Homo sapiens: one gene and its partners. The main gene of each other region encodes a partner of the protein of the gene in region 3 in a complex. Each region holds a gene or a part of one and is shown on either strand. Other genes may lie near its edges. The genes, in order: CEP290, MKS1, TMEM216 and AHI1.

Region 1 (6,601 bases), on a different chromosome or scaffold from region 3:
GTTCATTATGAAACATCAATATGTTTTCTACCATTTGTGAAGAAATGAATTTTCCAGTTTCAAGTACCTATTCAAAATTTTATTAAAAACCAGCAAATTAATTTTAATCTCTAGCCATAAAAACATAAGTAATAGTAAGCTCCTAAGCTTGGACAAAGGCTGGATTCTCTTCACTATAACTGAGTGGTAATTTAAAGACAACAATTTAATGTCACTAATTTTCAAAATTAAATAGTTTAAGCTCAATTTAATTTTGCTAGATATTTAACAAAACATACGGCTCAACCTCATAACCTATATGTGTGTATGTCTACATCTGTGTATATATCATAGGATTTGAGAATCTTAACACATGTATAAATAAGTATATATAAACTCCAATTTTAAATCTTAAAATTGCTGAATTTACCCTCATATTCTTTAAAAAACTTAAAGCATTATGAATGTAGAGAAATTCACCAGAGCTCACTGCCTATTTGATGGCTGTAACAAGTCTTCAAGTATATACTTTTATAATAAGTTGAAAATTTCATATAATTTTATTTATTAAGAATTCCAATCTAAGTATAAAGGTACAAGGTAGTGAGAAGGAAATACTACAGTTCGGAGAACTGCTTATTTCCAAGTATATTTAACTTATAAAGTTAATAAATAGTTAAATGAAACAAAGTTTATAGGTGACCTTTAGTAAATGGGGAAATTAACAGGACTTTCTTCTTCATCTTCAAACTCTTCAGAAGCAGCAACAGGGCTAGTTAATTCAACTCCCAATTGTTCTGAAAGTTTTTTTACCTTCTCTTCTAAGAGAATATTCTTCTTCACTTCTTCCTTGTAATTATACTTAAGATCTTCAATTTCTTCAAAAAATGAAGGATCAAAATTTTCCAGTTCTTTTTTCAGCTTCTTTATTTCCTCCTAATGGAAACATTATCTTTAAAAGTTGCATATAGGAAATATACATATTTTACGTTTGAACAAGGAGATTTAATTGTAAATATGAAAGCCAAAGTATTCCTGAATGGTCAAATACAGCAATAAAGGCAGAAGAATTAAGATTTTTCTTTGTTCCATTGTACAGTGTAAATAACTAAGTTGTTAACTGTCAAGTCCAGTTATGTATTCTGTAAGTTGTGTTCTAGTCTTTGACTAAAATTTATCATCTCTTATAATGGGACTTAATCTTTCTCTAAAAGCATATAAGAGCTTGTCAATAGAGCAATCAATCAAAAAGATTTTGTGATTCATAACATTGAAGTTAGTCTGGTTAAGAGTTTTGGTTTAGACTTCATTTATATTTTCCTTACTAATATCTAATATTTAATGAATAATGATCAATTTTTTATAAAGTTATTAATATGATCAGGGAAACCTTTGGGACTTCTGACAGGCATCTGGTGAAGAGACAATTCAAGCCTTAGTGACTATTTAGAATAGCCAGTGATCACTAGCTAATTCTCATATCCATGCCTTTTTGTCCTGTTTACAGTCTTAAAAGAGGTAAAACAGCAAATATTTTTTTAAGGGAACTATAACCTTAGGATTCCTGAAAAGAATTTCAAAAAAAAAATAAAGACACTGTTGCCAATGTGACCCAAAACTTAAGAACATACTAATGGCATATATTTGTTACAATTAAAAAATAAATTTACTACTTAATCCTATGTTGAGTCTGAATTTTTTGTTAACTCTAATATGTTAGGAATAGTCAGATGAACATAATTAACTTTGCAATATAAAGGTCAAATATAAGATGTTATTACTGAATTTTTTAGGATACGTAGTTAAAGATGGTAATGAAAATAGTTTTCAACAGCTGTTTTCACAAAACGATACTAAAATATAATTAAATATTACCTTCAAATGCTGCTTTTCTAGATCTGACATTTTGAGCTGTGTCTCTAGATCTTTTATTTTTTCCTTTAGTTGATCAGCATCTGTTGAAAAAGTCATACAAATTAGACTCAGCTTTTTCCCACTACGAATGAGTTCAAGGTAATGGATTTGTTCTAGAGAACAGAGATACATTTTATGAAACCTAGAACCTGGAAAACACTGGATGTTATGGCTGAAATACTTCAGGATGTAAACACTTAATGCTGCCTCCCTCCATCAAGTATTATAATTTCATAGCAGGCAGAAAGAGGTATGTGCTAGGTATTAGAAGTGTAGGCCAAGTTATTTTTTCTTCACATGATAGAAATTTTACATGGAAAAAATCCTAAAGCCAGGGAAACTTGTTAGGTACTAAAAGTACAACAGAAGAAAAGCAGACTGTTGGGTAAGGGACTATAACCATAAGCTAGCCAAATGCTCCCGCTATCCAACACAACACTGGCTATTCCATGTAGGTTATTACACATTTACTGTGCAATTACTATGTGCAAAACGTGTCATGCAGGCTGTGTAATACAAAGATAAGTAAGACATAGCCCTGATACTTTGGTAGGAAAACAAAAGTCTCCAAATATAGCACAAAAGTTCTAATTTATTGGATTCACCCTCCAAGTTAACACCTCTAACTTTATCAGCAGGCAAATAGGATTTTTGCTTTAATGCTATCTTTGCTAGATATCTCTTTTCTTTATATTATACTACATTTAATAAGTCATATTTTACAGCCATTGAAAAATAATAAAATACTAAAAGTTTGCGAAAGTAAGGGGCAGCAAACATTTTCATGGCTGGGACAAGTATCTTTTTTTTTTTTTTTTTTTTTGAGACAGTCTCACTCTGTCGCCCAGGCTAGAGTGCAGTGGTGCAATCTTGGCTCACTGCAACAACCACTGCCTCCCAGGTTAAAGCGATTCTCCTGCCTTAGCCTCCCTTGTAGCTGGGATAACAGGCAAGTGCCACCATGCCTGGCTAATTTTTATATTTTTAGTAGAGACAGGGTTTCACCATGTTGGCCAGAGTGGTCTCGAACTCCTGACCTCATGTGATCCACCCACTTCAGCCTCCCAAAGTGCTGGGATTACAGGTGTGGTGTGCTACTGTACTGGGCTTGGTATAAATATCTTAAAAGTTATCTTGCCATTTATATAGACAGTGATTTAGAATTTCCAAAACAGTTCTGGTTTGATCTTAAGCCTTAATCTTTGAAAAATGACAGGTAATCTGTCTACTTAGGAAATAAGGAATTTTGAGGGTTCAGAAATTCCCTTAAGAAACTGAGGAATGGAAAGATTAGAGAACTATCTATGGCCATATGACCCTTAATGCACATGCACCTGATCTCTGATCTCAGAAGCTAAGCACTGTTGGGCCTGGTTAGTATATGGATGGAAGGAAAATTATAAAATTTTCCTCACATCAACAGCATTAATACTGTGTCTAGTGTACATACCAAGCTGGCTGCTATGAGACATATTTTGAGAGTATTTAATATGTACTTTTAGTTACCAAGACGTAGCATAGCATAGCGGGTTAAGGACTAGGAATGCCAAGGAGCTGTGGAGTTTCATACATTTAGATTTTAATCCTGCCTCTATTTCCTAGCTGGCTTAGGGAATGGTTACTTAACCACTTTGAATTTGTTTATCACATAAAATGGAGACAGTAATACCTATCATATATGGTTGTAAATATAGAATGCTTGTAAGGCAATTAGCATAGTGTCTAGTACAACTCACACATGATGGCTTTTATTACAAATTAGTAATAGGACTACATAGCATACTGAAAAAGCTACAAGAGATAGTCAAAGATAGTTCAGATATAAATTGGTATAATCCTTTGGAGAGAATGGCATCTCTATCATCCTATCACAATGGCATAATTAGGTCAATAGATTAATCATATTTTATAGAAGCAGAAACTTGGAAGCAAACTAAATATCCATCAAAACATAAATGGTTCGATGTGCTTATACATGCAATAATACACTATGGAATTATTAAATGGATGAGATAATTTATGAACAGACCTCAAAAGATGTCCATGATAAACTGTTAAAGGCAAATATGCTAGAAATGTGTATAGTATTAGTTCAATTTTATGTTACTTGCCAAGAAAATATATATACGTAAATGCAAACAAAGTATTCTCTATCCATAGTAGTTTTGGTCTATAAAGTTAGCCCAATTAGTGAATATCAAACCACTGCTGCTACGGGAAATATGTACAGACATGCATATATATACATACACGCATATATATACATACACGCATATATATACATACACCTACATATCTCACACAGATGATAATCTTAAATCCTAAAGATAACTCATCCTGGTAAATTCTATTTATTTACATAAGAAAACAAGATTCAGAAGTGTTACATGACTCTCCTAAGGCTAGAGCAGTAACAAGCCTCAGAATTGGGATTCAAATCCCTTCCACCAGGCCCCAGAGCCACAGCTTCTTGCACTATGCTGTGCTGCCCTCTACTGTCTCCATCCTCTGCTCATTTCTCTATGAAAACTGAAATGAGGATACTGAGCACTGCCTTGTTGGACTTCTGCTGGGGACATGTAGGTTGGATTATTCAAACTTTCCAAGGCTCTGTGGATGTTTGCAAATGTGCTGCGAGTGTTGATTTGGGATTACATACACACTTTAGTGAGGAGGTGATTTAGAAAATACAGAATCCACAAATAATGAGGATATGTACATTGTACATATGAACATACAAACACATGTATGCATATGTGTGATATATATGTATACAAAATATGTGTGTATGTATATGCAGGAATGAGGAATGATTAGTAATCACTTTTGAATGGGAATGGAAGGGAGCAGAAAGATTTTCTTTTTACTTTGTAAACGGAAAAAAATATAGGCAGTATTTACTTATTTGCAGTTTTTAAAAATGTTCAGAGGACTTGAAAGAGCCTATACTTAGAAACTGGAAGCAACAGATTTAGTATTCATTGCTTAGCACTGTATTGTGATTAAATCTGTAACACCCAGATGGAGAACAAAGAGAAGAACACTTGGGTACTTGCTACTCTATAGTATAAACAACACAAAGAGAAAAATGGGAATATTTTTATATTAATAGCACAGAGAGACAAAAGACCCAAAGCTTATCAGGAATTCGATTTTACAGGGAGACAATGATCAGAAATCTGAGCCAAAAAAAAAAAAAAAAGGCAAACCCAAATTCAAAAACTTGGGGGTAGCTAACATGTTTTTTAAAATACATTACCAGGTATGGTGCTTTCAGCTCCACTTTGGTCCTTGTTAGCTTCTATCTGATGGATTAATTCTGCTTTCTCTTTATCCAGCTGATGATTAGCTAATCTAGAACACAATGATAATGTGTTAAAAAAATAAAGCAGATATTGCTTCATAAAATATATGGGCATTTCTTATGAACTAGTGATGTACAGTAATCAGAACAAGCTAGCCTTTATCGAAGTAAACATTTACTCTCAATGCTACAATGTCACCATTCTCAAACAAAAAGCCTGGAATACAAAAGCCTTCACGTTTTTCTTAATATCTGACCTGATGGCATTTGCAAGTGTGGTTTCGTTATAAGAGGAGCTTAATGAAAGCAGGCTACAGAGACCCCTGAAAGTAAAAAAATTACTTGTTCTCTTTCATTAGTATTTTCCTCTGGGAAGCTAAGGTTTAACTCATTCTATGCTCTTAGAAAAGTTTAAACTAAATTACAAACTGGAAACTTAGAGTTGGGTTTATCCTTTTTTTCTAGTGTGTATTATGAAAAAGAGTGATTAGCATTAGAGGGAAGAAATAAGGACCTAATAAGCCTGTTAGGCAGTAAAGTCGAAAAATGCTTGTCTCTAGTTGTAGCAATTCGGAGTATATAAAAACTAATAATTTTTTTTTTAAAGAAAAAAACAAAGTAGTCATATGAATACATGATGTACCTAAGAACTTGAAGCTCCCGTTTAAGGCCTTGCTCTGTCTCAGCACCTTCAGGAACATGTTTAAGAATCTTAATCTTTGAGGACAATGAAAAGTTAGAAGATAAGGTTTGCCATGGAAATATGAGGATTTATAAAGATACACATTTTTAACAAAGCGTAATATTAAAATATGGTTTTCAAAAGCACGCATAGGCAAATTTCTATGTTCTATTCACCATTCATTCAACAAGTATTGAGTAACTACTGCATAACTGGCATTGTCCTAGGCACAGAGGCTAACAGCAGTGAACAAAATGGCAATGTTCCATCTTGCATGGTCCTTGTTTAGTGGGGAAGCACAAAGAATGTGTGTTTAATATGATATGATGTAATATAGTGCCAGATGGTAGGAAGAGCTATCAAGAAAAAATAATCCAGGGTAAGAGGATAAAGAGTGATGGCAAGTAGTATAGGGTTAGGGTTAGGGTTAGGGAAGGTCTCTCTAAGGAGCCTCTATTTCAGCAGAGACATGAAGTCTGGGAGCAAGCTATGAGAATATTTGGGTGAACAGTATTCTAAACAAAGGAAACAAGTATAAGGACTTGACGCTTAAACGAGTTTGGATTGTTTAAAGTACTGAAAGAAGGTTACTGTGGTTAAAACATTGTGAATGAAATGAAGGGAAAAGTAGTAGAAGATGAGATTGGGAAGAAAACTGGGTGCCAGACCTCATATGTTGTTTTGGGATATGAAAAGAACTTTTAAGTTTTATTTTAGGGTGA
Region 2 (7,028 bases), on a different chromosome or scaffold from region 3:
TGGTAACCTCAGTTTGAAGTAGATCTGTACCAAAATGAAACAGCCTGTCAGAGTCCTTTGGATTATCAGTACCGTCAGGAGATCCTGAAGCTGGAGAATTCGGGTGGCAAGAAAAACCGACGAATCTTTACCTACACTGACTCTGATAGATACACCAATTTGGAGGAGGTATTGTTCTTTCTAGGGTCTCATAGCTTCCATCTTTGCTTCCTCTAGCTTTTTTGCCTCACTGAGTTCTGTGTGTTATGTCAGAGCCTAGTAAGGGGAGACAAGTAGCCTGTCTAGGAACTGCTGTGAGCTGCTGCTGCTGGCAGCCAGCCTGGAATAGAATGGGCACAGTCTACAGGTGGTGAGGCTGCTGCTCCCTTCTCTGCCTGCTAGAGGGCCTGGGGGAGCTGCCAGTATCTCTGATTATATGCTTGCAGAGTGCATACTGGGAGAAGTAACCACTGGGCTTGACTTCCTCCATGCATCATGAAAAAAGACAGGTAGTGGAGTCTGGAACAATATAGATAAAATTCATCAGGGGATTCAGCCCAAACTCTGAGTATATGGGTTTGAAGAGGAATTCAGTATAGCTATGGAAAATGGCTTATGTCCTCAATTTGCCTATGACAAAAATACCCTTGTGACCTTGTTTTACATTTTCTTCAGTCACTGCATTTCAGTTGCTTCTGTCTTCTCAGTAAGATTTTAAGCTCCTCGAGGGTAGAGCCTATTTTTTTTATTTTTGTCTATGACTCTGTAGGTCTCTGCAAGGAACAGGTATTCAATAAATGTTTTTGAAAGATTGACGTGCTTTCATTATTAGAGCTGTGGATTGATAACATTAGCTGGGCATGGTGGCATGTACCTGTAGTCCCGGCTACGTGGGAAGCTGAGGCGGGAGGATCACTTGAGCCAAGGAGTTCAAGGTTGCAGTGAGCTATGATAGCACCACTGCACTGCAGCCTGGGTGAGACCCTGTCTCTTAAAAAAATATATAAATTAAATAAAATTTGGGTTGTCTGTTTTGGAAAAGCAAATGAAAATGCAGTTAGTGCTCAGTTACCATGTGAGGATTTCCCACAAAATGCTTGTATCCCATTTGGCATTTTCTAACCACCTTGTTAACTTCAACATCTACCAAGCACACTAACCCAACTTTTTGTTGGTTTGTGCTCAGAGAATGCAGACTGATTTTAATATTAACATAAATAACTCCTTTTTAAAATCCAAAGGCAAACCATGATGTGGTAGAAATCTTCTTTGGGTTGTTTGGCTACTGCTCCCTCCGTTAGCATGTATAATTGTGAGGTGGCGGAACCTGTGGGGTTCAGGTCCTGGATGAGGTTTCAGGAGGAAGACTTCCCTTCAGGTACTTGGCTCCATGTGGCCCTGACCAGATGGCGTACACAGGGCTGCTTGCTTTTCCCAGCACTGTCAGAGAATGACCACTGCAGCCAGCGAGGTGCCTTCATTCTTGGTCGAGCGAATGGCAAATGTCAGGCGTCGCCGGCAGGACAGGCGAGGGATGTGAGTGCGGGCATGGGATGGGGGACAAGCTTTTACTTTTTATTTCCTAAAGTTGGGTAGTTTTGCATTTTTATCAGTGGTTATATATAGTATTCAAGTATTACTTTGTAATTAATTTAAAAAATAAATATAAAAATATAAAATATCTTCCTCACTCTTCATGTGGACATTTTTCCAAAGTGCCTCAGAGAGAGGGAAGGGATGTCATTTCTGTTTGTCAAATATTTTGGCTCTTAAAAAACAAAACAAAACAGTATGTCCACTAGCTCAAACTTCCCATTCTGAAGTGGCTCTCCACTGGGGTGCTCCATTGGGGTGTGCCAGGGAAGTGACCTTTCTGTGGTGTCTCCCAGGGAGGGCGGCATCCTCAAGTCACGCATCGTCACCTGGGAGCCCTCAGAAGAGTTTGTCAGGAACAACCACGTCATTAACACCCCTCTTCAGACAATGCACATCATGGCAGACCTGGGGCCCTATAAAAAGTGAGTGGCGCTTCTCACTGCCAGCTTAGAGCCTCATCCTTTTCTCCTCTCACCAGCTCTCCCCTTCCTGTTATTATCATCCTAGGTTATAGGGGAGGGAGGGACTTTTTCTTCCTTCTCTTCTTAGTTATGAGTGAAGCTTCTCACTGCCAACTCAGATCCTCATCTTCTTCTCCTCTCACCAGCTATCCCCTTCCTGTTATCATCCTGGGTTATAGGAGAGGAAGGGACTTTTTCTTCCTTTTTTTTCTTAGTTGTACTTGGAAGAAAGTTTTACCATGACAGCTCTCCCTATAGCCTCTGTTCTCTCCCCTGCAGTGGGCTCAGTATCTCTTCTTGTTTCCCTGAAGGACCATTGACCTCAACCTTGGTGTTTTCCTGATTTCTAGGCTTGGCTATAAGAAGTATGAACATGTCCTGTGTACTCTGAAGGTGGATAGCAATGGTGTGATCACAGTAAAGCCTGACTTCACGGGCCTCAAAGGACCCTACAGGTGAGGAGAGGAAGAAAGGGGTAGTGGAGACTGGCATTCCTTCCCTTGGTTGCACTTTTTGTCCCTAGTCAACTAGACTGTCAGAAAGTCCTTCATCTGTTCTAACTTTTACATTCCCAGGCAATGGTTCGTATTCTGTTCCAAGTCATAGGGCCTTAGAAAACCAGGGACTCCTTTCTCAGAAAATGTGCAACTGCACCAATTTGAAAGGGATCACTTCAGTGGTACAGTTAAATGACAGTGATTCTCTGTGCTGCTGAATGTAGGACCTGACCAGAACAGAGTGGGGTGAACTCAGCCAGGCTTTTCCTGTGGGCTGACTGTTCCTCATCTCTGTATCTTGGAAATGACAGAAATGTAAATTAGAAATTATCTGGCCCAACCTGTCCATTTTTCAGGTGAGAGAACTGGGTGGCAGGAATGTTGTGCCTTACAGTTTGACTGTAACTTCAAGCCAGAAATGGGCCCAGAACCTATACTTTCTGAGTCTAGTCTGGTGCCCTCTCTGCTTTACCCTTTTGTTTCTCTCTCCTGGTCGTCAATACAGCCACTTTTATCATCATATACTTTAGTGAGGTGTATGGCCCCTGATCGCTCATCCCTGGGCTGGGAGCTATCCCAGGGCCCATCTCTCATTATTAGAGTTGCTCCTTTCTGTGGTTTTGACCTTACAGGATTGAGACGGAGGGGGAGAAGCAGGAGCTGTGGAAATATACGATCGACAATGTTTCCCCCCACGCACAGCCGGAGGAGGAGGAGCGGGAACGGCGAGTGTTCAAGGATGTAAGCGCAAGTTCATTCCAAGTATCCAAGGGATGAGCCTCAGTGCCTGGAGCTGAGACCATTTCTGAACTTGATGTCAGCAGTTGCTCGGGAAAAGCCTTGCCCTTCATGGCCCCTTCTGACTTAGGCAGCATTGCTGACATATCAGACAGAAGTTTTTGATCATATTATAATAATAACAATAACCATTTATTTGAGCATTTACCATGTTCTGTGCTAGGTACTTTACATACCTTATTTCCTTTAGTCTTTACAACAACCCTTTGAGGTGAACACTTATTACCACCTTATAAGTGGGGAAACCGAGATTGAGGAGCTAAGTAGTCTGCCCAAGGTGGCATAGCTTGTAAGGGCGAGAGTCAGGATTCTGCCCCAGACCAGCTGACTCCAGGGCCTCTGCTTCACGGTAAAATGGCGGTGAGTCAGGTGCTTACGCCTCCAGCTCTTGCTGACCCTTCCCACTATTGCTTTTCTTCTTCCCATTCAGAACTGAACTTTGGTCTAGCTTGGGTTGCATCTTGAGTTTTGGTTTGGTTTGTTTCCTCAGCTTTATGGCCGGCACAAGGAGTATCTCAGCAGCCTCGTAGGCACCGACTTTGAGATGGTGAGTAGCTTGGCTTCCTGCAGCACTGTGAGCTGTGTTTAGCCGGAGCATTCTGACTGTGGATGAGTTACACTACCTCTCTTAAAGGCCCAAAGGTATACTCTACAGTGTGAAAAGGAAGTCAAAGAATAGCACATATAGTCCTTGTTATGTGTTTTGCAACATTGCATGTTGATAGAGAACTGTTAATGCTAAGAAAAAGGTCTGAAAGGCTATGCACATGCTGTGGGTGGCTTTCTCTGGGGAGGGTGGGATTAGATGTGGTAGAAGGGTAGTGGGTGGTGAGAGGGATATATTAGGGATTTTTGCTTTTTATTCCCTAAACTTAGGTAGCTTTGAATTTTTATCAGTTGTAATGTATTTAGGTATTACTTTATAATTAATTTAAAAAATAAATATAAGGATGAAAAATGTCTTCTTCACCTTTCATGTGGATATTTTTTCAAAATACCCCATAGAGAGGCAGGGGTGCCATTTCTGTTTGTCACATATTTTGGCTCTTAAAAAATATAGGCCTGATGCGGTGGCGCATGACTATAATCCCAGCACTTTGTGAGGCCAAGGTGGGAGGATCACTTGAAGCCAGGAGTTTGAGAGCAGCCTGGGCAACATAGTGAGACCACATCCCTACAAAAAAAAAAAAAAAAATTAGCAAGGCATGGTGATACATACCTGTAGTCCCAGCTACTCATGATGCTGAGGCAGCAGGATTGCTTGAGCCTAGAAGTTTGAGTTTGCATTGAGCTATGATCACACCACTGCATTCCAGCCTGGACAACAGATCAAGACCCTGTCTGAAAAAAAAAGAAAGTGGTTTAGTTCAGCTATTCTGTTGTGCTGTTCTTTGTCTTTTCTCATTCTAAGAGTTCTATCTCTAGACCTGGAAACAAGGATAGAATTACTTCCTGGTCTCCCTCTCTTTCTCTGAAAAATTAACCTTCACTATTTCCATATTGCATAAGCAACAGATATTCAGTATTTAAAAGTTAGATAAGACATGCACAAATAATTAAAAAAGAAAACTCCCTGGTTTCTTGACCTCAGCCATCTAAAGGGAAGAGGGCGTTCTGGCTTCCCATTGCACACCACAGGACAGTTGCTGTTGCTTGAATAATTTCCCATAGTGCATTGTCCTCACTGCCATTTAAATTATGTACTTTCCCCCTACATTGTGAATCTTAGGAATGAAGGAAACAGATCTGTGGAGAAGTGTCAGGGTGGGGAGAAAGTGCAGTAGTGACACCCAGGGCCTGACCCCTAGTGGCAGGTCGTCTGCAGATTTGTAGATGGGGCTGGAGGAGAAGTGCCAATTCCCTCCAGGCCTGCTGATCCTTTCCCACTTCTCTTCACCTTAGACTGTCCCAGGTGCCCTCCGGCTCTTTGTAAATGGAGAGGTCGGTAAGTGTCTTGCTAGCATAGATCTCTTGATGCTTAGGCACGTGCCTAGATGGAGCTGTGAATAGTCTCCTCCACTCTGGTAGAGGCCTTGTCTGCTGTACTTGGGAAACTCAGTGGTGAGTCTTTCCTGGAAACGCAGAGGGTTCCTGGCCCTCAAAAGACTTGCTCTCAGGGTGTGTAGGCCCCTCAGGATTGGGTTGGGTGCTAAGGGTGGTAGGAGAAAAAGCTAAAATAGCTTCCTGTTTTCTCTCGTAGTTTCAGCCCAAGGCTATGAGTATGACAATCTCTACGTCCACTTCTTTGTAGAATTGCCAACTGCTCGTAAGTAATATTCTTAAGTCTCTCCTTTTATACCCATTCAGACAGATCTAGAGGCATTTGGTCAGGCTTCCTTTCCCACTCCTCTGCTGAAACTGTTACTGTTCTTTTCAAGGTCATAGATCACATCCACTTTACCAAACCCAGTGGAGACTTCCCTGCTTTCACCTCGCTTGACCTTCCTGAAGCATTTTCCAGAGCCCACTGTGCTGCATGACACACTTCTCTGGCTTCTGGCTCCACACTTCTCTCTCCTATCTCGCTGGTGGCCCCTCATCCTTCTTGGGTGATGCCTTCCCTTCTGTTGATCTTAAACCGTGAGAGTACCCACAGCTAAGCCAAGGCCTTCTGTTACTCTCTGTCTGCAGTCTTCCTGGGCAACGTCATCCATCCTATGGCTTAAATACCATCAATACGTCTCAGACTCCCAGGTTTCTGCCTCTAGCCTTAACCTTTTCCCTGGACTCCAGACTCATATCCAGTTACCTCTTTTGTCATTTCTGTCTAACATGACCAAAAAGAACTCTTGATTCCTCCTCTTCCCTCAAACCTCTCCTCCCTGGTCTTCCCCATCCTAACAGAATGGCAGTGTCATCTACTGAGTTGTTGATGCCAAAAACCTAGGGAACATCCTTGATCCCTCACTTTCCCTAGCTCCCTATAGCCAGCCAATCTGTCAACAGTTCCTGTCCGTTCTGTCTTCAAAAGCTGTTGTGAACCTATTTGTTCTCTCCAGCACCCTACACCAAGCCACCACCATCTCTTGTCTAGGCCAGTGCATTCAACTTCTGATGTATCCCCCTGCTTCCTGCCTTGCTCCCATTTGCCGTTGATTTGCCACAGACACCAAAGCCAAGTTGAGCTTTAAAAAATGTAAACAAGTTATGTCCCTTTTGAGCTGAAAACCCCAACAGCTTCCCCTCCCACTTAGAGTAAAATGTAAACTTGATACCCTGAATGAGCTGGCCCCTGCCTATCTCTTCCATACAACCTTCCAGTCATTCTTCCCAGCCAGGTTCATTCCCACCTTGTAGCCTTTTAAGGGCCGTTTCCTTTGTCTGAAACCCTTTCTGCCATATCTTAGCATGGCTGGTTCTTTCTGAGTTTAGGTCTCAGCCTGTGTCGCCTCTGAGAGGCCTTCTCTTACCACCCAGTCTAAATGAGCCTCCCAATCACTCAGTCCCTTCCCCGTTTTGTTTTTAGTATAGCACTCATCACTACCCAATAGTCTCTTGTTGGTTTGGTTTTTGTCTGTCTCCCTGCTTCCCCCAGAATGTCAGCTCCATGAGAGATGGGGATCTTTTCTATCTAGTTACCAAGATACCCCTAAGATATACTAGCACATAGCAGGCACTCAGTAAATGGTAAATGAATGATTGATTGTGTGAATAAATGAATAAAGAAACTGTCCGCCCCGTCTGGGAAGTGAGGAGC
Region 3 (6,995 bases):
CACCCAGCTAATTTTTGTATTTTTAGTAGAGACGGCCACCATGTTGGCCAAGCTGGTCTCAAACTCTTCACCTCAAATGATCCACCCACCTCGGCCTCCCAAAGTGCTGGGATTACAGACGTGAGCCACTGCGCCCAGCCAATTTTTAAAGTTATTTTGTTTTTTCCTTAGTGATTTATGTGAGCCTTCTTTTATCCTTTCTTATATGTTGCAAGTAATTTTGTTCCTAAGTTTGTGCTTTAACGTTGATTTCAGGGATGACATATTCTAACAAATAAGGGTTTTGCTCTGTATTTCTGGGGTTATAAAACTTGTCCTACAGGCCAGGCATGTTGGCTCACGCCTGTAATCCCAGCACCTTGGGGAGGCCAAGGCAGGAAGATTGCTTGAGGCCAGGAGCTTCAGACCAGCCTGGGCAACAAGGCAAGACACTGTCTCTACAAAAAACACAAAATTAGCCAGGTATGATGTCGCACACCTGTGGTCCCAGCTACTCAGGAGGCTGAAGTTGGAGGACTGCTTGAGCCCAGGGCTTCAAGGCTGCTGTGAGCTATGATCGTACCACTGTACTACAGCCTAGGTGACAGAATGAGACCCTGTCTCAAATAAATAAATGTTTAAAAAACAAAATCTGGCCAGGTGTGATGGCTCACACCTATAATCCCAGCACTTTGGGAGGCCAAGGCGGGTGGATCATGAGGTCAGGAGATCGAGACCATCCTAGCCAACATGGTGAAACTCTATCTCTACTAAAAATATAAAAACTTGCCGGGCATGGTGGCAGGCGCCTGCAGTCCCAGCTACTCAGGAGGCTGAGGCAGGAGAATTGCTTGAACCCGGGAGGCGGAGGCTGCAGTGAGCCGAGATGGTGCCACTGCACTCCAGCCCAGGTGACAGAGTGAGACTCCATCTCAAAAAAAAAAAAAAATCCAACCAGGTGCAGTGGCCCACATTTGTAATCCCACCACCTTGGGAGGCCGACACAGGCAGATCACAAGGTCAAGAGATCGAGACCATCCTGGCCAACATGGTGAAACCCCGTCTCTATTAAAAATACAAAAATTAGCTGGGAGCAGTGGTGCACGCCTGTAATCCCAGCTACTCAGGAGGCTGAGGCAGGAGAATCGCTTGATCCCGGGAGGCAGAGATTGCAGTGATCCGAGATCGTGCCATTGCACTCCAGCCTGGGGACAGAGTGAGACTCCATCTCAAAAAAAAAAAACAAAAAACTCCTACAGAGATCCTTATTCAGAGAATTGTTAGGGATCTTAGTACTGATCTGTACAGGATACACTGCCTGCCCTGACGTGGAGTTACAACTGAACCTATTCCCCTAAGAATACTAGTGAGAAGAACCAAGCACTCTTCTTGCAGTTAGGCAGCTGGGAAGGAATCATCTAATATCCCATTCTATTGCCCATCTCTAGCCTTACAGAGCAACAAACAGGTAAATCTTGACCCAATGTATGAAGCAGCAACTTGAAACTTCAGAGACGGAGTAATAGGATATACAGATCCAGTCTATGATAGTCAACCTAGGTTATGTACTTTTCTTGTTAATCAAGTTACAGATACCAGCTTGTCTCATAAGGAGTGGAAATATTCTCTGGACAACACTTACCAAAAAACAGGCGAATTACTTCAATTCCAAGATAAAGGAGGAGCATCACCACATCCAGTACTAGGTTAGCTGTTGGATATGGTAGCAGGACACCTGCCAATACAAAAGCCAGAGTTTGCAAACAGCATATAACAGCACCCACAAGAACTGCCACACACTTGGGAAAAAAGAGGACATCAGTCTCAGCTTTCCATGAACTAGTTAGTGAGATGTGGGCATTATTACAGCAGCAGGATACATAAACTCACAATGCGACTCAGGCTCATTATTATGGTGTTTTACTCCTAACTCCAAAAGTCTCTGGGGACTCCACTCTCCAAAATGATTGGATGTACATGGGTACACAGGCCACTGAATAGTTTCTAAGGGTCACCAGTGGGCTTACAGTGGAGCTCAGCAAAGAGCAGTGATGTGGGCAGAGTCAGAATGGAGAAGCCCACATTTCTCAAACTCAAGAAATTCTTGCTGAGGGGCTGCCTATGGAATCATACTCAAAGAAGCCATCTGATGAGGAGGCCTGCCTTGCAGCGACAAAGAACTGCAGGGGGCAGAAAAGAACGGAAAATAAGAAGGTTCTTGGTAGGAATTGGCTCTGAGCTGAAGTGGGGAAGGGATGCTGTCGTCAAGCCCCAAGCCTTCCTTACCTTTATACAGAAATATGAAAAGTTCCAGCAGGAAATAGGTAGCATTATACCACCCGTTCAGAAAGAACAGGATTTCCAGCGGGGTGGAGGACAACCGTTTACCTGAAAAAGGAGCACAGAGAAGTGGGATGGGCCGGAAGGCAGCTCCCTCTCTGCTCGTATGGGTTGGTGTCTAACTTTGGGGAAACTAGACGCTGCAACTAATGGGACCGGCCACTCAGGGGCACTTCTGGTTGCTGATAATGAGGGGGCGAGGGTACGGGGGTGGGAGTGGAGGGGGCTTCCCTCCTTTCCTAGGAATCACCGTGAAACTCGACTCTTCGGCTTCAGGAATAAAAGTCAAGAGGTAACTCGCAGCTGACAGACATCTCAAAGATCTCACTCTGTCACTATTTGGGAGGGGAAGTTGGGGCGCAGAGACCAACAGATTCGCACCTGAGCCAGCCTAGAAGTGGCCCAGCCAAGGATCTGCGTTTATTTGAGCTGTGCACCTTGAGACCTTCAGGCACCCAGGGTGGGCGGGACCGCGGAAGCCGGCTTTGGACCAGGGAGGCGCGACGTCCCTAACGCTAGAGAATGGAGGGTTTAGGTCAAGCTCTGGGACAGAGGTGGGAGGGAGCGACCGAAGGGAAAGGGACCAGCGACTCACACACCTCCGGAATCTCACCTCGCGGCGCCATCTTCAGTCCCCGTGGCAGCATACGCTGCCACAGCGGCTCCCGGAGCAGCGCGGCGCTGCCGGAAACAGGGACGAAGCGGCCTGGGTTTCCGGCCCCTCTGCCCGCCCGCGGCACTCTGTGGTCACCCGGAGCTGGACGAGCTCGGGCCTGGCCGCAAGTGGCCCTCGCTCGGATGTCCCCTCTCCAGACCTAAGGGATAACGGTGACCACCCACGACGCCGTCGTCTGCAGGACCTCAGGGGTGCGGGGGAGGACCTTGGAGGCTCTCAGACTACCGGGCGTTGGGCGGAAGTGGCCAGTTGTGATAGTGTTACCAGGAGATTGGCAAATAGGTCCTACTCCCACGATTCTCTTTTTTCAACGGAAGACAAGAAAAGGTGTGAGCGACGGATCTCTGCAAATGCAGGGTGGAGTTAGCATTGGTCTTTTCTGCGGCCGATTTACCTACCAGGTAGAGACACGAAGGAAATAGAGCGTCCTTTCCAGGAACACACATAAATAAAATGAAACGAGTCACCACGCGATCCATAAAGTGGTGCAGTGGGAGCTGAGAGGACAAAGTGCTCCCAGGTGGAAATCTAAGTTAGTTTCCAAGAGACGGCCTGTGAGCTGGGCTTCAAAGCCTGCCTGATCCGGATTTGCAGCGGTAAAAGCGTGTTGCTGGCCGGGCTTAGTGGCTCACGCCTGTAATCCCAGCACTTTGGGAGGCCGAGGTGATGGATCACCTGAGGTCAGGAGTTCGAAATCAGCCTGGCCAACATGGCGAAACCCCGTCTCTACTAAAAATACAAAAATTAGCCGGGCGTACTGGCGCGCGCCAGTAGTTACAGCTACTTGGGAGGCTGAGGTAGGAGAATCGCTCGAACCCGGGAGGCGGAGGTTGCAGTGAGCTGAGATCGCGCCACCGCACTCCAGCCTGGGCGACAGTGAGACTCTGTCTCAAAAAAAAAAAAAAACAGAAAACTGTGTTGCTGCAGGCAGGGGAGTGCAAAAAGAAGGGTTTTGAGAGGACTCAGGTTGACTTGACTTGGCTGTTAGCCCGTTGTCAATCAGGGTAAAGCAGGAAACAGATGGCACGCTCCAACCAGGTAGCCTGAGGAAGGTGACTAAGCTTTATTTTATTTATTTCATTTTATTTTTGAGACGGAGTTTTGCTCTTGTAACCCAGGCTGGAGTGCAATGGCGCTATCTCTGGTCACTGCAACCTCCGCCTCCTGGGTTCAAGCGATTCTCCAGTCTCAGCCTCCCAAGTAGCGGGGATTACAGGTGCCCCCCACCACACCCGGCTAAATATTTTTGCATTTTTAGTAGAGACGGGGTTTCACCATGTTGGCCAGGCTGGTCTGGAACTCCTGACCTCAGGTGACCCGCCCCCCCCCCCCCCCCCCCCCCCCCCCCCCGCCTCCCAAAGTGCTGGGATTACAGGTGTGATTAATGCCCCCGGCCAAGAGTGACTAAGCTTTAAGCAAAGTGCTGTACCCCTGGCTAATTGGGATGTGGTGGGGCGGTAATTGTTACTTCTAGGCTTAAAAGGGAAGGGCCTGAAACAATTCCCTGAAGCTGGAGAGTAATATGTGCATAGAAGGCCTCCCACTAGGAACCCTCACACTCTAGGAGGCTAGTGGATAAATATAGCAGGGACCTCCATTTCCCTTCTCCCATCTCTGATCTCTGCTTATGTCTCCCGCTGACACAACTTAACTGCAAGCTGGAGGGCAAGGAAGCCCTTTAGGGTAAGTAGGAAAGCGCAGAGCACAGAGGTTAAGGTGGAAAGGAATCCAGATCCTGCTTCCCCATCTTCGCTGCCTGCAAGACAAGAGACATTAGAAAAGTTCCTGCTCTGAGCCTGATATGGAAAGAAAGTGGGCCAGCTGCACCTGGCGCGGTGGCTCACACCTGTAATCCCAGCACTTTGGGAGGCTGAGGCGGGTGGATCACTTGAGGTCAGGAATTCAAGACCAGCCTGACCAACATGGTGAAACCCCATCTCTACTAAAAATACAAAATTAGCCGGGCATGATGGCACATGCCTCTAATCCCAGCTACTTGGGGGGCTGAGGCATAAGAATCGCTTGAACCTGGGAGGCGGAGGTTGCAGTGAGCTGAGACCAAGCCATTGCACTCCAGCCTGGGCAACAAGAGTGAAACTATGTCTCAAAAGAAAAACAAAGAAAGTGGGCCAGCTGCTTGTTTTTGTAAATAAAAGTTCTTTGGAGAACGTCATCATGGTCACTTACTTACATGTTATTATATATTGCAGCTTTCATGCTATTATGGCAATGTTAAGTAGTTGCAACAGAGACCACATGGCCCACAGCCTTAAATACCATCTGACCCTTTAAGAAAAAGTTGGCTAATCTATGTCAGAGTATGCCACAACTTCATAGATGCCAAAAGCTGACAGTGAGGCCAAATTACTTATGGCAAACAGCAGGAACATCAGCATGGCAACCTGGGGGCCCCCTGCTCCCAAGTCCTATGAGTGACACAATGACCCCAGATGGTGCTGCACTCAAGGAGTTATGCCACAGCTTGGTGGAGCCCAGAGCCAAAGGCTCAGTACCCTTTTTAGCAAGCAGCAAATAAAGCCAGGCCCTTTCCACTGGGGAGGGAGAAATTATACTATCATCACACTATAGTCACTTTGGTCTACTTAATTGCTTCTGTGCTCAGTATCAGGAGACAGACTTTCTGGTTTGACATAGTAAGAACATGCAGGGATGCTTAGGACCCATGCAAGACTGTCCCAACAGCCAGTGCCCTTGCTAAATTGATTATTTCTAGGAGGCTTGTTATGTACATGATCACATCATCAGTAAATAAAGACATTTTTACTTCCTTCTCAATCTCTATACCTTCAATTTCTTTTTCTTGCCTTATTGCACTGGCCAGGACTGGCAGTGTAATGTTGACTATAAGTGGTGATGATGGATAGTCTTGTCTTGTTCCTAACCTCAGGGGAAGCGTTCAATATCTCACCATTAATATGGTGGCTATAGATTTTTTTTGTAGATACTCTTTATCAGATTAAGAAAGTCCCTTATTATCCTAGTTTGCTAAAAGGCTTATGATATATTTTATTAAGTGTGTTCTCTTAATCCGTTGAGAGGACTATATGATTTTTCTCCTTTATTCTGCTAATATGAATTACATTGATTTTCAGAGGTATGACCAACCATGTCTTCCTGGAAAAAATAAAAAACCCATTTGCTTATGAGACTGTACAGAAAAAACTTAACATAGCAGACCTGAGGCTGCTGTCTTTGGAGAGGCCCAACTGCAAGGTTGACCCTTGCCTGGCGTAAGGGAACTTGGCTTTTGGTAGTGTTCCCACCAGTTTAAAGTGGCTCACAGTGCCTAAACTGTACAAACAATGTGGCTTATGCTAAATACCTGTTCTCCTTCTCAGAGTCTGGAGTTTTGAAACATGTTAGGCAGAGGGTGCCTTCATGATCAGCTCCCAGTAAAAACCTTGGGGGCTGGGTCCAGTGGCTCATGCCTGTAATCCCAGCACTTTGGGAAGCTGAGGCAGGAGGATCAATAGAGCTCAGGAGTTCAAGACCAGCCTGGACAACACAGTGAGACCCTGTCTCTACCCAAACAAAAAAATTTAGCCAGGCATGGTGGTGCACACCTGTAGTCCCAGTTACTTCGGAGGCTGAGGCAGGAAGATTGCTTGAGCCCAAGAGGTAGAGGGAAGAGGCTGCAGTGAACCATAACTGTTTAAAAAAATAAAAATAAAAAAAATAAAACTTGGACCCTGAGTCTCAAGTGAGCTTTCCTAGTAGACAACATTGCACATATGTTATCAGAATTTGTTGCTGGAGGAATGATGAACGTCTTGTGTGATTCCCCCTGAGATAGACCTCTTGGAAGCATGCTGCTAGTTTCTCCTTGACTGTGCCTCATGTATCTTTTCCCTTTGTTGACCTTGCTTTGTATTTCACTGTAATAGATCAGAGGCATGAATACACCTGTATGCTGGGTCCCATAAGTCCTTATAGCAAATCATCCAAACTGGGTGTGATCTTGGAGACCCCTGACACAGAT
Region 4 (7,028 bases), on a different chromosome or scaffold from region 3:
ACTGTCCTTTCTTCTTTGTAATTTCTGACCTTTTCATTCTCAGTCATCTGACTTCATTTCACTTACTTACACATTTCTTCATTAGTCTATTCAGGGTGCCACAGAGAATACCACAGACTTCATTGCTTAAACTACAGAAACTTATTTTCACACAGTTCTGGGGGCTAGAAGTCCCAAGATCAAGGTGCCAGCAGGATTGGTTTCCCGTGAGGCCTCTCTTCCTGGCTTGGAGGTGGCTGCCTTCTTGTTGTGTCCTCACATGGCCTCTTCTCTGTGCAAAAAGAGCACGCTCTGGTTTCATCTTTCCATCTTCTAAGGACTCTAGTCTTATTAGATTAGAACCCCACTCTTCTGACCCCATTTAACCTTAGTTATCTCCCTAGAAGCCCCTGTCTCCAAATGCAGTTACATTAGGAGTTCAGGTGTCAACATGTGAATTTTGGGGAAATATCATTTGGTTCACAAGAATCTCTATTCAGTCCTATTTAATACCTGATTTTGAAATTCTTGTATCTTTTTCAAGCTCCTCTGTGGTGTTTCTCACCATTCCTAGACAACTTAGAAGATACTCTGTTCCATTCTTCAGTTTTCCTTTTTTTTTCATTGTTTTTGTGTTTTCTTTCTCCTAATATAAAGTGCATTACTACACACTCATCCACAAAACATTTGTTTTATATTTTGCTATTGCCATTGAATCATTTGGAAAGCTACATTGTTCATTCCACAGATCAGGATGTTACAGCTTTCTTATATATAAATTTCCTTCATTTCTTTTCTTGTCATGAATGAATGTCCTATACTTTTGTGTGTGTGTGTGTGTGTGTGTGTGTGTTTGTGTGTGTTTCCACCTAAGTTGATAGAACTTTCTGATTTTTCCCAGGCATCTAATATTTTTCTGAGACAGATGAAATTTATTTTATTCTGTAAGTCCACAGATAATTGTTTAAGATTTTGAAATTTATTTTATTCTTGTCCCTTTATCATGGCTAAGAAGGAGCCCAACCAGCCAAAGGTTTGTCTGTTAACGTTATTTTAAGCAATTCCTTGTCTCTCATCCCCGTGTATACTCATTAGTTCTGCCGGATGTTTTTCTCTGTCATATCCTCACATTTATCCCCATTTTTGTTTCCACTGCCACGGCCCTAGATCAAAGCCTCATCTGAGCTTTTAGCTCAGCTCTCTTTTACTGGCTCCTTGTTTCTGATCTTTCCCTCCTATAGTTCTGAAATGAGAAAAGAACAGAGCCATGAGGACCAAGGACACATAATGGATACACGGATGAGGAAGAACAAGCAAGCAGGCAGAAAAGTCACTCTAATAGAGGTAAGGGGAAAACCAATAGAAAGTTGCGCTATGTTGTCAACAGGAAAAGATTTAGGAAAGCATGGTCAGCAAGGACAAATACCAGAGAGAGGCAAGTAAAATAAGGACTGACAAGTCCCATTTGGGATCTGTAACCGGGAGGCCATTTGCGACCTTGGAGAAGATAGTTTTGATGGAGAAACCTGGAAGCATAAATCAGATTGTCTCCAGCCCAAAGGGAAAAAGACTGTAAGAATAGTCTTATTCTCTTTAGAAGCTGGAATTTAAAGGAAAGAAAAAGCTAGGCAGTAACTAGTGGAAAACACAGGGTATAGACAAGATCTTTATAAAGAGGGGAATGACAAGAATATTTACAAACTGAGAGGAAAGAGCCACTTGAGAAGGAGCCATCTGCGGTGTCGGAGCAGAGTGATAGTCCCTGGGGGCCTAAGGAACTCCAGAGGATTACAGCTCAAGAGTGGGCCACTTTTTCCACCGAGATACGCCAGTGGGAAAATGTGTTTGGATGGTAGGGGTTGGGGTATAGGGAAGGCCTGCCAGAAGGCCTTTTCTCTATTAAGTAGAAGTGAAGTTTCTGTTCAAGGTGAAATGTTACGAAGCTGTTCATGTCCACATTTATAAATTTGTCATTTTGTAGGAACTAGAGTCAAAATTTTCATATTTTTATTTTTCCATTGTAGAAAACTAAAATCTAATTGTACAGAAGCATATAGATGCATAGTTATGTAATCATGGGCTAAGGAATTATTTTTAACCTTGATACCAGAATTGGAAAACATTATAAAACAGATTCTTAAATAATGGAAACTTTAAAATTATGCAGGTCAAAAAGAAAAAAAGTCATAGAATTTTTAAATGAACAATAACCTGGGATGGAAGAGATTTACCCATGGAAGAGTAATACTCTTTTTTTTGTTGTTGTTGTTGTTTTGAGACGTCTTGCTCTGTCACCCAGCCTAGAATGCAGTGGTGCAATCTCAGCTCACTGCAGTCTCCACCTCCCGGGTTCAAGTGATTCTCCTGCCTCAGCCTCCCGAGTAGCTGGGACTACAGGCACGTGTCACCACACCCAGCTAATTTTTGTATTTTAATAGAGTCAGGGTTTTGCCATGTTTCCCAGGCTGGTCTTGAACTCCTGACCTCAAGCCATCCACCTGCCTCAGCCTCCCAAAGTGCTGGGATTACAGGCGTGAGCCACCGCACCTGGCCAGGAGTAATACCCTTAACAAATAAAAAGCTCTAAGAGGAGCTTTTTCAACAAGAAAAAAAATACACCAGTAGAAAAACGGGACAAAGATATACACAGGACATTCTTAAAGGATTCTTAAAGGGATAAATATAAATGGCAACAGACATATGAAAAATGTTTACCATCCATTGATCAAATTAATGAAAATTAAAACAATAAAATGAGATGGTATTTTACCCTTTCAAAATGACAAGTTTCAAACTTATGATACATACCTAGTATTGATGAGAAAATGGGATGTGGATTCCCGCTTACACTGCTGGTAATACTATAAGATTGATCCATTCTTTGTGAAGTATAATTAGGTAATATGTTAGGGTTTTTTTTTTGTTTTGTTTTGTTTTCAAAATGTGCATCTCTTTGACCTGACAGTTCAACTTCAAGGAATCTCTTATAGGAAAGTATTCAAGTATACATGGAGAGATTTAGTTAAAAGGCTACTCCTTCGAGCAGTGTTTTTAAAATAAAGGGTTGATTAAAATATGAAATATTTATATAACAGAATATCATATGGTTATTCATCATATTATGGAAGTATTTTTATGGACATGAAAAGATGTTTATGATTTTTAAGTAAAAAATGATTATAAAATAGTTTATATAATATACATCAAAAGACATGAATAATTATCTGAGTAGTAAGATTATGGTAATTTTTTTCTTCTATTTTAACTTTGTGCATTTTCTAATTTATCTACTTACTGTATATTTACTACTTGATCATTTCTTTCAAAATGAATGTAATTTTTAGAAATTTTCTAATACAGCGTGTTGTTTCTACATTTAAAGAAACCAAGGTTTCAAAGTTACAGCTACAAAGTACCTGAACTAGGAATTAATCTTCTTGCCCCAAGTTCAGGGCTGTTTCTCTTACACATTGCTTTGTATATTAACTCTGATTAGATGGCCAGTGCTTCCAGTCAGGGGCTATTATTTAATACATACTCACATTTTTTTCCTCCCCTGCACTTAGCCTGGTGTCTTGCCACAGAAGTAAACCTTCAGGAAAGATCTATTGGATTGAATGTCTTGTGGGGTAAGGTCCAGGTTTTTTTGTTGTGTTTTGTTTTTGTTTTTTTGAGAGGGAGTCTTGCTGTGTTGCCCAGGCTGGACTGCAATGGTGCGATCTTGGCTCACTGTAACCTCCACCTCCTGGATTCAAGTGATTCTCCTGCCTCAGCCTCCCGAGTAGCTGGGATTACAGGCACCCACCACCACACCTGGCTAATTTTTGTATTTTAGTAGAGATGGGGTTTCACCATGTTGGCCAGGCTGGTCTCAAACCCCTGACCTCAAGTGATCACCCGCCTCAGCCTCCCAAAATGCTGGGATGACAGGCATGAGCCACCATGCCCGGCCACGGCCCGGTATTTTTATGAATCTTATTCCCCAGACATAACATACACACAAACACTAACCTAGTTTCATACTTGTTTTCATAAGCTTGCTAAGAAGAATGTTTCTTTCTCTTTTCATCACAAGAGCCTTTAAAAAGGGCTTTGCTTCGTTACTTTCTTCCTCTGTTAGATTACAGAGATACTTTATGAGAAGATAGAGAAGGAATGGCTTTGCATTTATCCTTGTCTTTTGGTTAGATGTCTTCTCCTCCCTCTTTCAGCACATCCCTGCTGTCTCCTAGCTTTCAGGTCCTTTTGCTGTTAGCGTTCATCAAGCCAGTGTGCCACTCTTGATTTTCCTCCCATCGTCAGGAGGAGCCGCCAGTGTCCGAAGGGTGCACATGACCATCTTTATTCTGTCTCTTTTCTCCCTTTTATGCGCCATCTTTGTCATTCTCTATCCAGTGTGTTTCTTCCTCTTCTGAGTCTGAATCATTTCCCTCAAAGATGTTATCTTTGCTGCCTACTTTAGATTTTTCGAGTTGAATTTCTCTTTGGGTTCTTCTCCTGAAGGTCCGTCTGGCTTCTCTGTTTACTTCTCACAGTGCAGTCACCACCTGATTGATTTCACTTGTCCTACATCTTCTGCACGTGCAGGATCCATCTCACTAATTTCCAGCTGTTCTTCTCCCCTTCTCCCCCTTCCCTTTTCTGTTTTTCTTCTTCTTTTTTGTCCTCCCACTAACATGAACTCTTCCTCTCACTTTGTTTTGCCTTATTCTTCCTGTAAGATCCTTTACCCTCCTCACTGCCTTTTGCAGAAGTTTATATGTCTCTCTGTGACTTTAGCCCAGCCTTCATTGAAACTACTTTCTTTTCCATTTTTATCAGATCCTAATTTGGTGAAAGTTTTACGTACTTTTTCTGTATATGTACAGGGAGACTTTTTTTGCCCCTAGTGGTATTATACCTTGGCATGCCGTATTCTGTACCATTTTTATACTCAACTTCATGTGCATTCATGAGCTTCACTAGAACGTATTTTTGGGCTTCTATATATGATACAAGCTTACCTGGAGTAGCTCTGTTTAACAAATTTAAAATCAAGAAACATCAAGTGATAAAGAATTTTTGCCCCTCATGTGTAAATGTGTTTTATATGAAAAGATAGTGCGACCATTGATTTAAGATTGGGCCTGTTCCTTAAAGCACAGGTGTCCCCTACACCTCCTGTGCCCCCAGGGAAAGCCCTTCAGGAATGGTTAGCCATTGCCCTTTCTTGCCACAGTGTGCCAGCTGTCACTTTTCTCAGGAGTGGTCGATGGAGTTGACTGCTACCTTAACCAGATTTGCCATCGTTCTGAAACTGCCGTGTGTTTTCTAAGGACAACCAGGTGTTAAGCCTTTCTCTTTAGAAGAAGGACAGTAACCTTTCTGTGTAAGTCCAGAACTTATCAATGCTGTATGAATGATTGCATTAAAAAATGTTAGGTTTAGCCCCACTAATTTATCTCACACTAGTTGTAGTGCAAATACTACATGCTGTCTAAGGAAGCAACTTCTTGTTTCATCTGCATATTGGTTCTTGATTTTTATGAATTGTATAATTTGTTTTACATCAAAGCCACATCTGGATGCTTGATTGTTACTATCTTGGTCAAAAATGAGACAGCCCATTTTTTAATTGATTTGAAAAATGTAATAACCTAATTATATAAAAGTAGGCATAGCCATAGACTAAATGAAAGAATGCTATTTAATAAAATTATCTGTATCCTTCCGAATCACTAACCCTGAATATCATCCATGAGGACTTTTTTTCCCATTCAATGAAGAATTTCATATACTCTGATTGCCTGCTCTTCATTTCTGGAAGTTACTTATGGTTTGGAGTTTTTAGTGTCTATATTTGGGGATTTTATTTCTTTCTTGCTTACATTAACCTGTCAATGCAGGAGCAGGCCTTAAACAATTGCTAATGATACAAAAAGATGCTAACAATGTTTGAGAGGCAAACTAGAAGATAGGAAATTAGTATTTTGGTCTTTTTTAGTTGTGTTTGTATGTGTTTGTGTTTTACACAATGTCCTTTATTACCTGTGCTGTTGCCTGAGCACACTAAGATTTGGTTGTAGTCAGAAGACATTATTCAAGTTTATTTAGTACATTTTGTGTATTTTTCTTTCCAGTAAAGAATTGAAGAAAAGTTAAGAGCTGCCGAAATGCACAGAGGTGAAAATGACAAACCAAATGGAATTTCTCTTCAGAGTTCAGAATTTTCAGATACTAAGGAGGAAGAAAGGATCCACTACTTCTTGTTCTTATGAATGACTCTAGAAAAATCAGAATCAAGTTGTGGGTGGAAAAATCAACGTGGCCTTTGAGTTCAGTTGTTATAAACCATTGTGACTATTGTTGGTCAAAGTATTGGTACTTATATTGTTAGTAATTGCATCATAATTACATTACCAGTGTTGGAAAACTAATGAAGAAAACACTGTAATTGCTACTCAGCAAATGTGAATAAAAGGTGTTTGCGTTATTAGGATGTCTGTTAAGTAATCATTTAATATTATTATATTGGTAATGGTTGTATGTGTGATGCTATGCCCAGAATATGAAGTATCTGTTTTTGAAATTCACTTTATTTAAAAGATAAGCAGCTGACTGGGCACGGTGCCTCATGCCTGTAATCCTAGCACCTTGGGAGGCTGAGGCAGGTGGATCACCTAAGGTCAGGAGTTCAACAACACCAGCCTGACCAACATGGTGAAACCCCATCTCTACTAAAAATACAAAAATCAGCCGGGTCTCATGGCAGGCACCTGTAATCCCATCTACTGAGGCAGGAGAATTGCTTGACCCAGGAGGCAGAGGTTGCAGTGAGCCAAGATCACGCCATTGCACTCCAGCCTGGGGGACAGAGCAAGACTCTATCTCCAAAAAACAAAAAAGATAAGCAGCTTTAGAATATGGCGCATTCAAAACAGTCTCAGTAACAAAGACATTAAAAGAAAACAATTTACTTTCTAATTAAAATTTTGTGTTTCTTAAGATCAAATCATATAGGTAACTTCATAGACCTAAATTAAAAGTGATTTTTGGCTGGACTGGCAACA

What was found.
Region 1: TMEM216 (region 3) and CEP290 share a complex: the UniProt entries of both Homo sapiens proteins name them as parts of the tectonic-like complex.
Region 2: TMEM216 (region 3) and MKS1 share a complex: the UniProt entries of both Homo sapiens proteins name them as parts of the tectonic-like complex.
Region 4: TMEM216 (region 3) and AHI1 share a complex: the UniProt entries of both Homo sapiens proteins name them as parts of the tectonic-like complex.

The regions. Positions count from the first base shown.
Region 1 is NC_000012.12:88,048,500-88,055,100, forward strand, and holds the end of CEP290 (centrosomal protein of 290 kDa), read right to left. Parts: exon of another isoform or gene 6,002-6,601; intron 5,915-6,001; coding exon 5,841-5,914; intron 5,248-5,840; coding exon 5,153-5,247; intron 1,935-5,152; coding exon 1,855-1,934; intron 1,662-1,854; exon of another isoform or gene 916-1,661; coding exon 685-915; 3' UTR 517-684; downstream 1-516. UniProt on the Homo sapiens protein: Involved in early and late steps in cilia formation. Its association with CCP110 is required for inhibition of primary cilia formation by CCP110.
Region 2 is NC_000017.11:58,209,228-58,216,255, reverse strand, and holds part of MKS1 (tectonic-like complex member MKS1), read left to right. Parts: intron 1-12; coding exon 13-168; intron 169-1,357; exon of another isoform or gene 1,358-1,417; coding exon 1,418-1,515; intron 1,516-1,868; coding exon 1,869-1,997; intron 1,998-2,386; coding exon 2,387-2,491; intron 2,492-3,165; coding exon 3,166-3,274; intron 3,275-3,821; coding exon 3,822-3,878; intron 3,879-5,233; coding exon 5,234-5,276; intron 5,277-5,531; coding exon 5,532-5,597; intron 5,598-7,028. UniProt on the Homo sapiens protein: Component of the tectonic-like complex, a complex localized at the transition zone of primary cilia and acting as a barrier that prevents diffusion of transmembrane proteins between the cilia and plasma membranes.
Region 3 is NC_000011.10:61,388,603-61,395,597, reverse strand, and holds the start of TMEM216 (transmembrane protein 216), read right to left. Parts: upstream 3,012-6,995; 5' UTR 2,967-3,011; coding exon 2,933-2,966; exon of another isoform or gene 2,919-2,932; intron 2,368-2,918; coding exon 2,266-2,367; intron 1,715-2,265; coding exon 1,622-1,714; intron 1-1,621. UniProt on the Homo sapiens protein: Part of the tectonic-like complex which is required for tissue-specific ciliogenesis and may regulate ciliary membrane composition.
Region 4 is NC_000006.12:135,284,718-135,291,745, reverse strand, and holds part of AHI1 (jouberin), read left to right. Parts: intron 1-1,220; coding exon 1,221-1,323; intron 1,324-6,098; coding exon 6,099-6,101; coding exon of another isoform or gene 6,102-6,120; 3' UTR 6,121-7,028. UniProt on the Homo sapiens protein: Involved in vesicle trafficking and required for ciliogenesis, formation of primary non-motile cilium, and recruitment of RAB8A to the basal body of primary cilium.